Homo sapiens: one gene and its partner. The protein of the gene in region 1 purifies or fractionates together with the protein of each later gene. This does not show direct contact. Each region holds a gene or a part of one and is shown on either strand. Other genes may lie near its edges. The genes, in order: LETMD1 and CPVL.

The links.
Region 2: the proteins of LETMD1 (region 1) and CPVL purify together in Homo sapiens (affinity purification with mass spectrometry; 3 studies listed by BioGRID and IntAct, with this or other methods). This does not show direct contact.

What each region holds. Positions count from the first base shown.
Region 1 is NC_000012.12:51,051,216-51,058,536, forward strand, and holds part of LETMD1 (LETM1 domain-containing protein 1), read left to right. Parts: intron 1-872; exon of another isoform or gene 873-876; coding exon 877-992; coding exon of another isoform or gene 993-1,031; intron 1,032-2,562; coding exon 2,563-2,645; intron 2,646-4,619; coding exon 4,620-4,806; intron 4,807-4,928; coding exon 4,929-5,030; intron 5,031-5,134; coding exon 5,135-5,287; intron 5,288-6,790; coding exon of another isoform or gene 6,791-6,816; coding exon 6,817-6,913; intron 6,914-7,321. UniProt on the Homo sapiens protein: Plays an essential role for mitochondrial structure and function, as well as thermogenesis of brown adipocytes.
Region 2 is NC_000007.14:28,996,488-29,003,808, forward strand, and holds part of CPVL (probable serine carboxypeptidase CPVL isoform b precursor), read right to left. Parts: intron 4,898-7,321; exon of another isoform or gene 4,842-4,897; intron 4,569-4,841; exon of another isoform or gene 4,482-4,568; intron 1-4,481. UniProt on the Homo sapiens protein: May be involved in the digestion of phagocytosed particles in the lysosome, participation in an inflammatory protease cascade, and trimming of peptides for antigen presentation.

The DNA of each region.
Region 1 (7,321 bases):
CAACATGGTGAAACCCAGTCTCTATTAAAAATACAAAAATTAGCCAGGTGTGGTGATGGGCACCTATAATCCCAGCTACTCGGAAGGCTGAGGCAGGAGAATTGCTTGAACTCAGGAGGTGGACGTTGCAGTGAGCCGAGATTGCGCCACTGCACTCCAGCCTGGGCGACAGAGCAAAACTCCATCTCAAAAACAAAAATAAGTGTTCCAGGCCGGGCGCAGTGACTCATGCCTGTAATCCCAGCACTTTGGGAGGCCGAGGCAGGTGGATTGCTTGAGGTCAGGAGTTAAAGACGAGCCTGTCCACATGGTGAAACCCCATCTCTACTAAAAATGCAAAAATTAGCCAGGCATGGTGGCACACGCCTGTAATCCTAGCTACTTGGGATTCTGAGGTGGGAGAATTATATAAACCTGGGAGGTGGAGGTTGCAGTCAGCCGAAATCGCACCACTGCACTCCAGCCTGGGCAACAAAGTGAGATTCCATCTCAAAAAAAAGAAAAAAAAAGTTCCAGAAAGGAGATTAAATTAATATCTGGCTGGGGAATACATAGGGTTAATTTAGCAAGACTTTCTGAAGTTAGGGAGCTTGATTTTTAAAAAGGAGTGACCAGTGAAACAGAAGAGGGAGACCATTCCATAGCAGATTACAGAAGCCAAATGTAGCTAGAAGAGAGGCGATGTGCTAGGGGAAAAAATGTTGAGAAAAGAGATTCGAGTTGACCTCAGGAGTTTCAAGTTACCTAGTTTAAAGCTTTGAGTATCGTTGGGGAGGGGTGAGAGTGTTTGCATGTGATTGAACATGGAGTAGGAAGCTGTGGTTAAGATTTAAACTGGGATAACATCACACTCTGTCCTCTACTTTAATGAGGCAGGATTGCAGATGTTATGGGCTGATGCCAAAAAGGCTAGAAGAATAAAGACAAATATGTGGAAGCACAATATAAAGTTTCATCAACTTCCATACCGGGAGATGGAGCATTTGAGACAGGTATGGGCCAGGGGCAGATATCCAGAAGTTCATGGTGAGGTAATTACATTTAATCAAGATCTCAAGGTTTTTTCTTTCATTTGTTGTTCACCATTGATCAAGCTTTTGCCCTTTGCCGTGAGAACAAAATATTGAACTGAATGAGGCATCAGATTATTTGTAAGAATTGGGTTCATCCAGAGTTGTAGCCCTCCATAGCAAGAGCTCCATAGAATTTCTGGCACACTTTCTGAATGAAAGTTGTAAATACTAAAATCTAATTAGTTTCTGAACATAACAAAAGTCTGCAAGGGGGCTGGGCGCGGTGGCTCACGCCTGTAATCCCAGCACTTTGGGAAGCCGAGGCAGGCAGATCACGAAGTCAGGAATTCGAGACCAGCCTGGCCCACAAGGTCAAACCCCATCTCTACTGAAAATACAAAAATTAGCTGAGTGTGGTGGCGGGCGCCTGTAATCCCAGCTACTCGGGAGGCTGAGGCAGGAGAATCGTTTGAACCCGGGAGGCAGAGGTTGCAGTGAGCCAAAATCATGCCATTGCACTCCAGCCTGGGTGACAGGGCAAGACTCCATCTCAAAAAAAAATAATAATAAAATGAAAATAGAAGTCTGCAAGGGCAGCCAGGCACAGTGGCTCTCGCCTATAATCTCAGCATTTTGGGAGACTGAGGTGGGCGGATCACCTGAGGTCAGGAGCTTGAGACCAGCCTGGCCAACATGGTGAAACCCCATCTCTACTAAAAATTCAAAAATTAGCTGGGCATGATGGCAGGCGCCTGTAGTCCTAGTCCCAGCTACTCGGGAGGCTGAGGCAGGAGAATTGCTTGAACCTGGGAGGCGGAGGTTGCAGTGAGTGAAGATCGCGCCACTGCACTCCAGCCTGGGTGATAAGAGCAAAACTCTGTCTCAAAAAAAAAAAAGTCTGCAAGGATCCAAAGGGCAGCATGAAAGTAGTATTTGGTGGTGACTTGATGGGTCGTTTTGAAGCTGAGAGTAAGAATCTAGGACCCATTCCGCAGATCAGGAAGAGTTCACTGAAGGATTTGGTATAATGTCAGGCTCTGTACTAGACATTATTTGGGATACAAAAGTAAATAAGTCAGAGGTTTTGTCCTCAAGGAACTAACCATCCAGAAGTAAATAGAAATAAACTTGGGGACCACATGCAGTGCTCATGCCTGTAATCCTAGCACTTTGGGAAGCCAAGGCGGGCAGATCACTGGAGGTCAGGAGATTGATACCAGCTTGTCCAACATGGTGAAACCCTGTCTCGACTAAAAATACAAAAGTTAGCCTAGAGTGGCGGCTTATGCCAATAATCCCAGCTACTCGGGTGGCTGAGGCAGGAGGATCACTTGAACCCAGGAGGCAGAGGTTGCAGTGAGCTAGGATTGCACCACTGCACTCCAGCCTAGGTGACAGAGCAAGACTCCATCTCAAAAAGAAAAAGAAAGAAATTTGGTCCTTTTTCTGGGCTGTAATAGAAGTTTACTGTACAGTGGGGTGGATGGATTGTCTATTGTATTAACAACTTATTTGGGTTAAAACTGCATCTGTGTTTATTTCTGCTTAGTTCCGCCAAGACGTCACCAAGTGTCTTTTCCTAGGTATTATTTCCATTCCACCTTTTGCCAACTACCTGGTCTTCTTGCTAATGTGAGTACAGACTTCCATCTCCCCAACATCTTGAAGATGTATCAATTTTTTTAAATTAAGAATTACTTTAAACAGCACTCATTTCAGAAGATAGGCAGAGGTTATCAAACTTCTGCTCCAATCTTCTCATTATTCCAAGGTTCATAAAAACCACTTAGGAAGACCTTGGTTACTGTGACACATCACAGCTATAAGTGTAGGTGGCCTAGACTCTCCCTATCTCTTAGCTGCCCTGAGTCATGTGAAATAAGATAGTGACCTTCTCCATCATCCCTAGAGGCTCTCTCCCCGAGAGAGAGTACTTTTAGACTAATTTCTTTAGGAAAAGTACATTTCGTATTCTGATAACATTTTTATTACTTCATATCCAAAAATGACATTTCTTAACTGTGATCTTGCATGTCATTCATTATCTATTGCTGTATAACAAATAACTTCAAAGCTTAATAGCATAAAACAATCGTATAAATCATTTTCATGATTTTGTAGCTCAAGAATTAGGGCAGTGCTCAGGTGGGCAGTTGATTTCTCTCTTCCATATAGGGTTGACAGAGGTCCCTTAGTGATATTTAGCTGCTGAATGGACTAGTCTGGAAAGTCCAATATCACTCTTATGTCTGGTGCCCTGGCAGGGATGGCTACACGGCTAGAACTGTCAACCAGAGTGCCCAGATGTGGCTTCTTCAGTATGGCAGCCTCAAGATAGTGGGACTTCTAACTTGGGAGCTCAGGGCTCCAAGAGTGAGGGGTTCTAGTAAGAATCTACATGACTTTATAACCTTGTCTTGAAGGTCACATAGAGTCACTGCTGCTCTGTCCTATTGATTGAATCAGTCACCTAGAATGAAAAAAGGGCAGGATGTAGACCTCAGCTCTCCATGAGACAAGTGCCAGAGAATTTGAGGTCATGTTTTAAAACCACCAAACACGTAGATAAATAAATTAAAAAACAAATCGTGGCCAGGTGCAGTGGCTCACGCCTGTAATCCCAGCACTTTGGGAGGCCGAGGCGGGCAGATCACAAGGTCAGGAGATTGAGACCATCCTGGCTAACACAGTGAAACCCTGTCTCTACTAAAAATACAAAATACTAGCTAGGCGTGGTGGCGGGTGCCTGTAATCCCAGCTACTTGGGAGGCTGAGGCAGTAGAATCGCATGAACCCAGGAGGCAGAGGTTGCAGTGAGCCGAGATCGCGCCACTGCAGTCCAGCTTGGGTGACAGAGCGAGACTCTGTCTCAAAAAAAAAACAACAAATCAGTTGCCTTTTACATACTGGGTCCACATAAGGACTGTGCTATAGTTAGATTGTCAACATCACATATAGTGTCCTGGTCAGGCTGCAACTCTCTCCAAAGCATGCTCTTCACATGCTTTAGTTCAAAATGAGTCATTATATCTGATTGCTGCGTGGCAGGCTATTCTGCTAGTCCTTCCTTTCACATCCCATTTCAGTAATGGTGCTTGAAATTGTGCTTCAGTGTGTCTTATAAACTTTGGTCTGAGAGTCACTTAAGAGAAAGGGCTGACTGTAGTGGCTCTCACCAGTAATCCCAGCACTTGGGGAGACTGAAGCAGGAAGATTGCTTGAGACCAGGAGTTTGAGACCACCCTGGGCAATATAGCAAGACCCGTCTCTGCAAAAAAATTAAAAACTTAGCCAGGCATAGTGGCCTGTGCCTGTAGTCCCAGCTACTCAGTAGGCTGTGGTGGGAGGATTGCTTGAGCCTAGGAGGTCGAGGCTGCAGTGAGCTGTGATCTTGCCACTGTACTCCAGCCTGGGTGAGAGAGGGGACCCTGTCTCTTAAAAAAAAAAAAAAAAAAAAAAAAACTGAAAAAGAAAAAGAACACTGAGGTAGGGAAATAGTGTCTCCATCTCTTCTTCCTAGTATTCATGTCTACCAAATGCTTTCTTTGGCTTCCTCTGAAAGAAGCCAGTTTCAGCAAGTGAGTTTGTGATTCTTTCTCCTTTCAGGTACCTGTTTCCCAGGCAACTACTGATCAGGCATTTCTGGACCCCAAAACAACAAACTGATTTCTTAGATATCTATCATGCTTTCCGGAAGCAGTCCCACCCAGAAATTATTAGTTATTTAGAAAAGGTCATCCCTCTCATTTCTGATGCAGGACTCCGGTGGCGTCTGACAGATCTGTGCACCAAGGTATTCCTGCAGTTAACCCTTCCTACAAATGTGGAATCTTGTTAGATTCAGTGTGCACTAAACTAGGTAAGAGGAGTAGTCAGGACTTTCCTAACATCTACAAATCTCTTACCTCTTCCAAGATACAGCGTGGTACCCACCCAGCAATACATGATATCTTGGCTCTGAGAGAGTGTTTCTCTAACCATCCTCTGGGCATGAACCAACTCCAGGCTTTGCACGTGGTGAGCACTTTGAGGGCTTCTCTTTTCCATAGCATCACCATGTTTCAGGTGTTTGCTTGAGCTCATACTATTTGCCTTTCCCCTCCTATGTGGTTGTGTTACAGAAAGCCTTGAGCCGGGCCATGCTTCTCACATCTTACCTGCCTCCTCCCTTGTTGAGACATCGTTTGAAGACTCATACAACTGTGATTCACCAACTGGACAAGGCTTTGGCAAAGCTGGGGATTGGCCAGCTGACTGCTCAGGAAGTAAAATCGGTAAGAGCTTGATTGCAACATCAACCCTCAACCCTTGGTGTGCTTTTGAGCCTATGGCAGGCCGGAGGTTTACAGGGGCTCCTTGTCTTGTTTGTTTATAGAACCCAGCTTCTTTATTCTCTCACTTCATTTATTTATTTATGATTTATTTTTATTTATTTATTTATTTTGAGACAGAGTCTCATTCTGTTGCCCAGGCTAGAGTACAGTGGCACAGTCTTGGCTCACTGCAACCTCTGCCTCCCGGTTCAAGTGATCCTCCTACCTCAGCCTCCCAAGTAGCTGGATTACAGGTGTGCACCACCACGCCCAGCTAATTTTTTGTATTTTTAGTAGAGATGGTTTCACCATGTTTGCCAGGCTGATCTCAAACCCCTGGCCTCAAGAGATCCATCAACCCAAAGTGCCGAGACTACAGGTGTGAGCTACCGCACCCAGCATATTTATTTATTTTTCAGTCTCACTATTTTAACCAAGCTGGTCTTGAACTCCTGGCCTCAAGCAATCCTCCCATCTTGGCCTCCTAAAGTGCTGGGAATACAGCCGTGAACCACTGTGCCCGGCCTTTTTAAAAATTATTTTTTAATTAGCCAGGAGTGGTGGCACATGCCTGTAATCCCAGGTACTTGGGAGGCTGAGACATGAGAATTGCTTGAACCCAGGAGGTGGATTGCAGTGAGCCAAGATCGCACCACTGCACTCCAGCCTGGGTGATAGAGTGAGACTCTGTCTCAAAAAAAACCCAAAAAATAAAATAAAATTATTTTTTATTTTTGTAGAGACAGGGTCTCACTATGTTGCCCAGGCTGGTCTTGAACTCCTGGGCTCAAGTGATCCTCCCGCCTTGGCCTTTCAAAGTGTTGGGATTACAGGCATGAGCCACTGCGCCCAGCTCCTCACCTCATTTCTGTGTCTTTTTTCTCAAGAAACTTAGCTAGGGGGAAGGAATTGCCCACAGAAATTTTGGTTTGTATTTCTTTTCTTCTGGCACTTCAGAAAGCAAGGATACTGCAGTTTAGACCTACTATTTTAGCTTATATAGGACTCTTTGCTTTTGTCATCTTGTCCATCACTAGTTTTCAAATTGCCATGAGGAAAGGCTTCATGTGGGAATGAGATTGTAACTTTTTTTTTTTTTTTTGAGACAGAGTCTCGCTCTGTTGCCCAGGCTGGAGTGCAGTGGCATGATCTTGGCTCACTGCAACCTCCGCCTCCCAGGTTCCAGTGATTCTCCTGCCTCAGCCTCCCGAGTAGCTGGGACTGCAGGTGCATGCCACCACGCCTGGCTAATTTTTGTATTTTTTAGTAGAGATGGTGTTTCACCATATTGGCCAGGCTGGTCTCCAACTCCTGACCTCGTGATCCGCCTACCTCGGCCTCCCAAAGTGCTGGGATTACAGGCACGAGCCACCGTGCCCGGTGAGATTGTAACTTATTTAAAGGAGATTTAGGATTGTTTGTGGATTTCCATTTCCTTGGCATAATCATTCTATGATTATTAAGGACCATTTCTGTTCTGAGTGGTATAGGCTTGTTATCTCCGTGGCCTGAATTCTACGCATATTGGTGAAGATAGGTGTCGAACTTGGCTGGGAGAATGGCTGCAGATTTCCTGCAGCCTGAAAGGTAAAACACATTTCTGTGGTTATACCACTAAAATCCAAGTCACTTTTGTATTTTATTCTGAGGTCATTTTGGAGTTAATTATTGAGTACTGTGAGACATATATATACATACATCTAATTGAAAGGGCACAAACTCACATGCCTACTGCATGCCCGGCAGGTAACGAAGTAGGCCATAAGACAAGAGGGAGTAGTGGGGACTGTGGAAACCTAAGAGTGAATGCATGCTAGTGTGAATTTTCCAACCTTGGCACTTCCTTATGGGGGGAATATCCTGTGCTTTATTTATTTATTTATTTATTTATTTTGAGACGGGGTTTCGCTCTTGTTGCCCAGGCTGGAGTGCAATGGTGCGATCTCGGCTCACCGTAACCTCTGCCTCCTGGGTTCAAGTGATTCTCCTGTCTCA
Region 2 (7,321 bases), on another chromosome or scaffold:
ACTGCACTCCAGCCTGGTTGACAGAATGAGACCCCATCTCTTAAAAAAAAAAACCAAAAAACAAAAAAAAAAAAAACAAAACAAAAAACTTGACACTTGAAATGAAAGAAAGTCATGTTTTGAGCAGCATAGAGTTAGAACATTCTTTTTTTTCCTAATATTGGATTATAAAACATTTTAAAACATAGCAAATTCGAAAACAATTCATATAGTGACGATTTTGAGTCATGAACTTTCACTTTACTTGCTTTCTCACATAAGGGTGCCTCTATGCATCCCACACCCATCCACTAATCCATCTTATATTTTTGACACATCTCAAAGTAAAATGGGCATGTAGTGCACTTCCCCCACACACTTCAGCATCACATTATTCATCAGAGTTCAACATGTGTTTACAGATTTTCTTCTTTTGAGTCAAGTTAAGATACAATGAAATGCGCTAGTCTTAAGTGTAGACTCACCAGTTCTGACAAATGCAGACACCTACGTAACCCAAGCCCTTGTTGGGTGATATAAAGCATTCCTAAAACATCTCTAATGATGAGATCCAATCAGCAAAAGGGGACTGGTCTCTGTACTCGTTAAGCCTCTAGCGTCAGCTAATATTCCAAGTAGAGGGAAACGGGAAGCTGTCATGATTCAGTGCCAAAAGGGCAAGGACTGACACTGAGTGTTGGGAAGTTACATGCAGGAGAGGTCAGCCTGGCCTGAGATGTCTCGTTCCATATGTGGAGAATGGACAGGAGGTACCAGTGCATGAAGTGAATAAACGTATGCAAAAAGGACATCACTTTCAGTAACTTCTAGCTGCAGAATCACGATCAGCAATTAAAGGTCACCTTCACAAGGCCCTTCCTAAGAGGCTGGGTTCTTCTACTTGTCTCAATCTGAAGGAAACTGAGGCAGAAAAAGTATATTTGGATAGTACATTTATTATATTGAAAATCTGCCCCTATATCCCAACACCCTCCATCTTACAACCTTGACGTGCAGTAAGTAGGATTAACACTATTAGATGATATTTACCTTGCAGCTCGCAGCTATACAAGCTGTGCACTGAACAACTACAGGGAGCACCATTCACATGAGCATTGAGATGACTGAGCTATTTGGAATTATTCAGTGGCTTGTCCAAGTCACACAATTGTTAAGTGAGATAACTAGCTAGAACCCTGACTTCTGATGCAAACACCGGTGTGGTGTTTTTAATCAAACCCTCTACTCAATCATTCCTTATCTTTGAACTGAAATTTGCAGCTTAGTCACGGAACATTTTTATTCACCTCTCAATAGCCCTCTGAGGTTTATTGATGAAAAAAATTATTGCAGATATAAACATAATTTTCTGTATTTTTGTATTTCACATATTACAGTGAGGGAGGCAGATCCCATTTGCAGATGTGGGACCAGACTTAACTCTTTCACATGCAAATGTGAAACTTTTGTGTTTTGCTGCAGTTGATCAATGGTCATTTGTGCCTCACTGCAATGACTGTGAAACCCATCTACCATTTGTGTAGAAGCTTGCAACTGGAAACCCAGCATGCCCACTTTTTATCACAAACTGAAAGTAAACATGTGTGACAAGAACCCCTTCATAGGACTCCAGAGGGAAACTTTTGCCGCCCCGCAATCCCAGGCTAGACATTTCTTCCTGCAGATTTTCATCCATATCTTTGGCCCTGGCAGGAATCTGATGAGTGATTTCTGTGCAGCTTCAGCTCAGCTGAGGACACTTAACAAAGTCATATGTGTGACAAAACCCAGCTGCTTCAACTGGAAATGAGTTTGGCAGCAATGGTCCGGAACACCAATAAATTGAATACCCAAGAGCTAAAGGTCATCCTGCCCCCAGAACCAGTGCTGCAGCTAACAAAGGACAAACAAAGGATAGCACAGTGCTTCACAGCCTGGGCTCAGAAGTCAGAGTGCAGGAGCATGGCAAGAGGCACTGCACGTTGTGTGACCTTGGGCAAGGAACTTAACCTCACTGAGCCTCAGGTTCCTTTACTTTACAATTGGGAAACAAGTATTACCTCGTGGGGTAGTTGTGAGTTGTGTGAGGAGTTAGTGGAATAATGTCCCTGGAATACTTAGCACAGTGCCCGGCCTGGGATGGTCTTCAGTAAATATTGGTCATTTTCGTTATTCTTCCAACACTTATCTATATTGAAAATCCAGAATCAAAATGCCTATATCAGGAGGATTGCTTGAGATCAGGAGGATCGCTTGATTGCAGGAGTTTGAGGCTACAGTGAGCTGACTGAGCCACTGCACTCCAGCCTGGGCAACAAAAGGAGATCCCATCTCTAAATATAAATGAATATATATGTATATATGCTTATATGAACCTAAACTACCCTAGAACATGGTGTTCCTACATTTTCATAAAAAACCTTGGTTTAAAAAAGGTTGTTTAAAACAATGGTTCTTGGCTGGGTGCAGTGGCTCATGCCTGTAATCCCAACACTTTGGGAGGCTGAGGTGGGCGGATCATTTGAGGTCAGGAGTTTGAAAGAGCCTGGCCAACATGGCGAAACCCTGCCTCTACTAAAAATTAAAAAAAAAAAAATTAGCCAGGCATGGTGATGCACGCCTGTAATCCCAACTACTGGGGAGGCTGAAGCAGGAGAATCACTTGAACCTGGGAGGCAGAGGTTGCAGTGAGCTAAGATGGCACCACTGCACTCCAGCCTGGGCGACAGAGTGAGACTCCACCTCAAAAACAAACGAAAAAACAAAACAATGACTCTCAAATTTGAACGTGCATAAAAATACCTGAGCTCATTAAAAGAGATCGTGAGGCATCACCTCCAGACTTTCCAATTCGGAAGGTCCAGGGCAGGGCCTAAGAATTTGCATATCTAACAATTCCAAAGCAATGCTGATGCTGTTGTTCCAACTGCTTGTTGAAAACCACTGTTGAGAATTTTTTTCTACTCTGTGGCAAACCAGGGAATTCTCTGTTTACATCAAGGTAATTTGATTAACACCTACTCATGAATACAAGTAGAAATTTGTTTAATACCTACTCATGACCTCACTTCCTGGGTATCCGCTCTCCTGGTATTTACTCACGCACATGCGCACTCACACACACCTTCCCTGTCCATAATTATCAAGTGGTGAAGGAGCGCTGAAGGGGTCAGGTGTTCTTACTCTTCCTCTCAGTGACCTACCTGACCCTGGTCCAATTTCTGAGCTGCCATGTGTAATGACCCTAATGGCATTGTAAATTGTGTCATTAATATTGCGGGAAGAGAAAGCTTGTTAAGGGACAAAGTTGTTTCACATGCCACAAAATTCCCAAACAAAGCATATTCTTAAGCAGATTCACATACAGCATTTTACTGATATTAACTTCAAAAATAAATATATTTTTGAGTGTGGAAAAATAAACCACTCTTGTTTATAATCAAGCCACTCACCATTCACAAATCAAAGATAACAGACCACTTGGCAGCTTTTAGAGGTGAGTAACAAAATGTGTCAGGGCTGTAATTACGTATTTAAATGTGACAAGATTAATCTCAGGGCTCCCTGAATAGAACTGTCTATTTTGGGTGCCTCCACACTAGAGCTGCAGCCTCTAACTTCATGTGTTCCAGATGTTCCAGGGGGTCACAAATGTGTCATGAATTTCAACAGGGTTATACAAACACTTTAAAGCTTCATTCCACTTTATTTTTTAGAAAACAATATAATTCTCCCTGGAACTAGAAACAAAGACCTGCCAGTAAAGGTTTCCCAGTTGTGCCTGTTTAGATGACAGAAAAGAGAGGGAAGTTCACAGTGGGCTTGTTGATGTAGATGTGTCAGGGGAAGCTTCTTGGGGGTCTTGAAGGAGATCACTGGACGGAGAGTGGTGGGTGGGTGGGGTGGGGGTGGAGGGATCACCGCAGACAGAGGAAACTGTGTGTGGAAATGCAGGAGGCGTGGAAATGCAGGAGGCATGGAAATGCAGGGGCATGAAACTGTGGGCACGTGCAGCAGAGGGATCACCGCAGACAAAGGAAATTCTGTGTGGAAATGCAGGGGCCGTGAAGCTGCGGGCGCATGCAGCAGTCTGTATGTCGTCCCATTCATGCAGGAATAGAGGGAAACAGAAGAGACAGATGAACAGGCAAACGCTAGTGGGACCATGTGATGCCCCAAGTGACATGCTGGGATGAGTGGACCTTATCCTATCGGGCTTTAAAAGCAACTGTGGTAAAATACACTTAACATAAAATTACCACTTTAACCATTTTAAAGCGTATGATTCGGTAGCATTTAGTATATTCACACTATCTTGTTGCAGAATATTTTCACCACCCCAAAGGAAACCCATATACATCAGTAATCACTTCCCACTCCCCCTCTCCCCATCAGCCCCTGGCAACCATTAATCTGCTTTCTGTCTCTATAGACTTGCCTATTCTGGATATATCCTAGAGGGTTTTAAGTAGGGTAGTGACATGCTTATGTTTGCATTGTAGAAAAATGACTTAATGTCTAAGGAGAAGGCTAATTTGGAAGGGAGTCATACTGGTACAAGGAGGCAAATTAGGAGACTACCAAATCAGGTGAGAGGATGTGGGCTCATGGGAGGGATGGGGAGAAGGGGAAGGAGAAGAGGGTAGTAAGATGGAACCAATAAAATCAGTGATTAATCCGATATAAAGGTTAAGTGAGACTTTCTCTACCCATCCCCAACAAATCCTCCCCATTTCAGGCTTCTGACATGGGCAGATTTGCAAAGGTGGTGCTACTCACCAGGAAAGAGAAAAGAGCCACATGGGAGCTGCAAGTTTGGCAGGCAGAATATGTAGGATTGGTTTATTGTTTCTGCTTTCCAGTATAGAAAGATGCATACCCTCAAGAGAATCTGCTTGTTGTGGTTTCTGATTTACATGTAAGTTCTTTTCACTACTTTTATGCCATTCCACATTTACTAAATCTTATCTTTTAGTTTGCTTTCAGACACTAACTATAAGTAGAAATAACGTAAATAGCATTCAAATAAAAATATATTGAAAAGGTACTTGGGAACGAGAATAAAAAACAAGCCAAAGCTTGTTAGCAGACACTTCCTAACAAAGAATGCAATAAGTCACTTTCGAAAGAATGAAAAAACAGCAGAGATCAAGGCTGGGAGTTGCTTCAACAGCACTCAGGGAAACGATTCTTGAGGTCTCCCACTGTACACCTCTGGTGTAGCAAATGGTTATTGAATAGAATGAGAAAAGGAGCTTCTAGGTGCTTCAGGAGACCCACATGTAGCCATCATAATGGTACATATTCTAGAGCAGTTAAAACTTTTGGTGCTCCTTTACAACATCCCCAAGGGGCTTCCTATGTACACCATCTTAATCAGTTGCAACAATACTGTTTGTAATTTAGGACTTCCACTTCTGACTGTGACACAATAGCATGTACCAAACCAATCTTATTCCACAGAAAACAATAGAAGCTGAATTAAAAAGAAAATAAGCTGTTTAAAGGTATCAGAGAGCAACCAAGCCTTGAGAGAGGCCATGATCGTAGAGAAAAGGGAATCACAAGGAAGTGAGCCTAACATTTTGTGCTGCTTTTCCCTTTGGGAAATTCACCAATTTTTAAGCTTCTCTGACCAAGACGCCAAGTCAAAAGCGGCAGATAAGAGAATGAAAAGCTCATTAGTCTTACGGTGCTTGAGAGACCAAAAAACAAAAACAAAGAAAACCCCAAAAGAAACAACAACAACAAAAAATTGGAGTTGCAAGCCTGTCAAGGAGGGACAGCACTGGTAAGCACTGCAGGCTTTCCATCAGATCCGTGAAAGACAATGCCTTGGAAGTAATAACAAACCAGAAACAGGTTAGTCCTCACAAACCTTGAAATCAAGCACTGAATCAATCGTCTCAATCCCAAACTTTATCAAGGTGATATGCCTCTACTCTGTATGCCTTCTAGAAAAAATTAAATCCTTTTGGAAGAAAAATAACATTTTTCTTCATATATTTTTTGTACATTTTCTTCAACATTTAATAAAATTTAATAGGCATGACAAAGAACAAGAGCAATGACTAAAATTTAAGGAGAAAAAAAGATAACAGAGACCACAAATGATCCAGATATTAGAGTTACCAGGTACACATTTTAAAGTAACTGTGAACAAAATATGCAAGATGTTAGGTATAGAAAAATAATTCACAAGATAATTAGAATATATACAAGAGAATCAAATGGAAGTTCTTTAACTAAAAAGTTACTCATTCATTGTTCATTGAAATTAAGAACTCGATCGATGTTTTAGCAATAGATTAGGCATGCAGAAGAAACACTATATGAACTGGAAGTTAGGTCAGTAGAGGATATCCAGACTGAAGCATGGAGAATAAAGGTATGAAAATTCAAAAAAAAAAAAAAAGAAGAAGAAGACGACATGAAACCATGAAACATTTAACTTATGTTTAACTGGAATTTTAGGATAAAATGATAAGGAAGAAATGGGGCAAAAGAAACAAATAGTAACATTCAGAGATACTGACTGAAAAATTTCCAAAATTGACAAAAGTTACCAAGCCAGTTTTGAGAAGCTCTATGAATCCTAGATAGAATAAACACAAAGCAAACTAACCACATCATAGTACACATAATAGTATATTAGTAATAGTATATTACACTATAGTATGTGTATGTGCACACACACACACACACACACACACACACACACAGAGAGAATAGCATTTTGCTAAAAGCAAAGACAGAGAAAATCTTAAAAGCTGTCACAGAAAAGGAAACAGTACTTTCAGTACCTTCAAAGCAGCAAGAAAACTGACTATTCAACAGAAACAATGAAAGCTGGAAGACAGTGAAATAATATCTTGAAAGTTCTTAAATAAAATATCTGCCAACCTAGAACTTGTATAGAAATGAAGACCTTGTAAAGATATTTTCAAGGAAACAAAAAATTGGAAAAGGTTTTTGTCAGCAGACCTGCACTAAAAGAAGTACGAAAGACTGTTCTTCAGACAGAAGGAAAATTATCCGTAATGGAAACATGAAAATGCAGAGGAGAATGAACAGCAACTGAGAATTTACATATGTGAACACAAGTAAGGAGTATCAATAATTAATAATGTCTTCTGGAGTTTGAACTATGTAGAAGTTTTTCAAAAGACAGTACTTGCACAAAAAGGGTGTAAAGTGAGTTAAAGTGTTGTAAGGCAGCAGTCCCCAACCTTTCTGACACCAGGGACCAATTTTGTGGGAGACGGTTTTTCCATGCACAGTGTTGGGGAGTGGGGGATGGTTTGGGGATGACACTGTTCCACTTCAGATCATCAGGCATTAG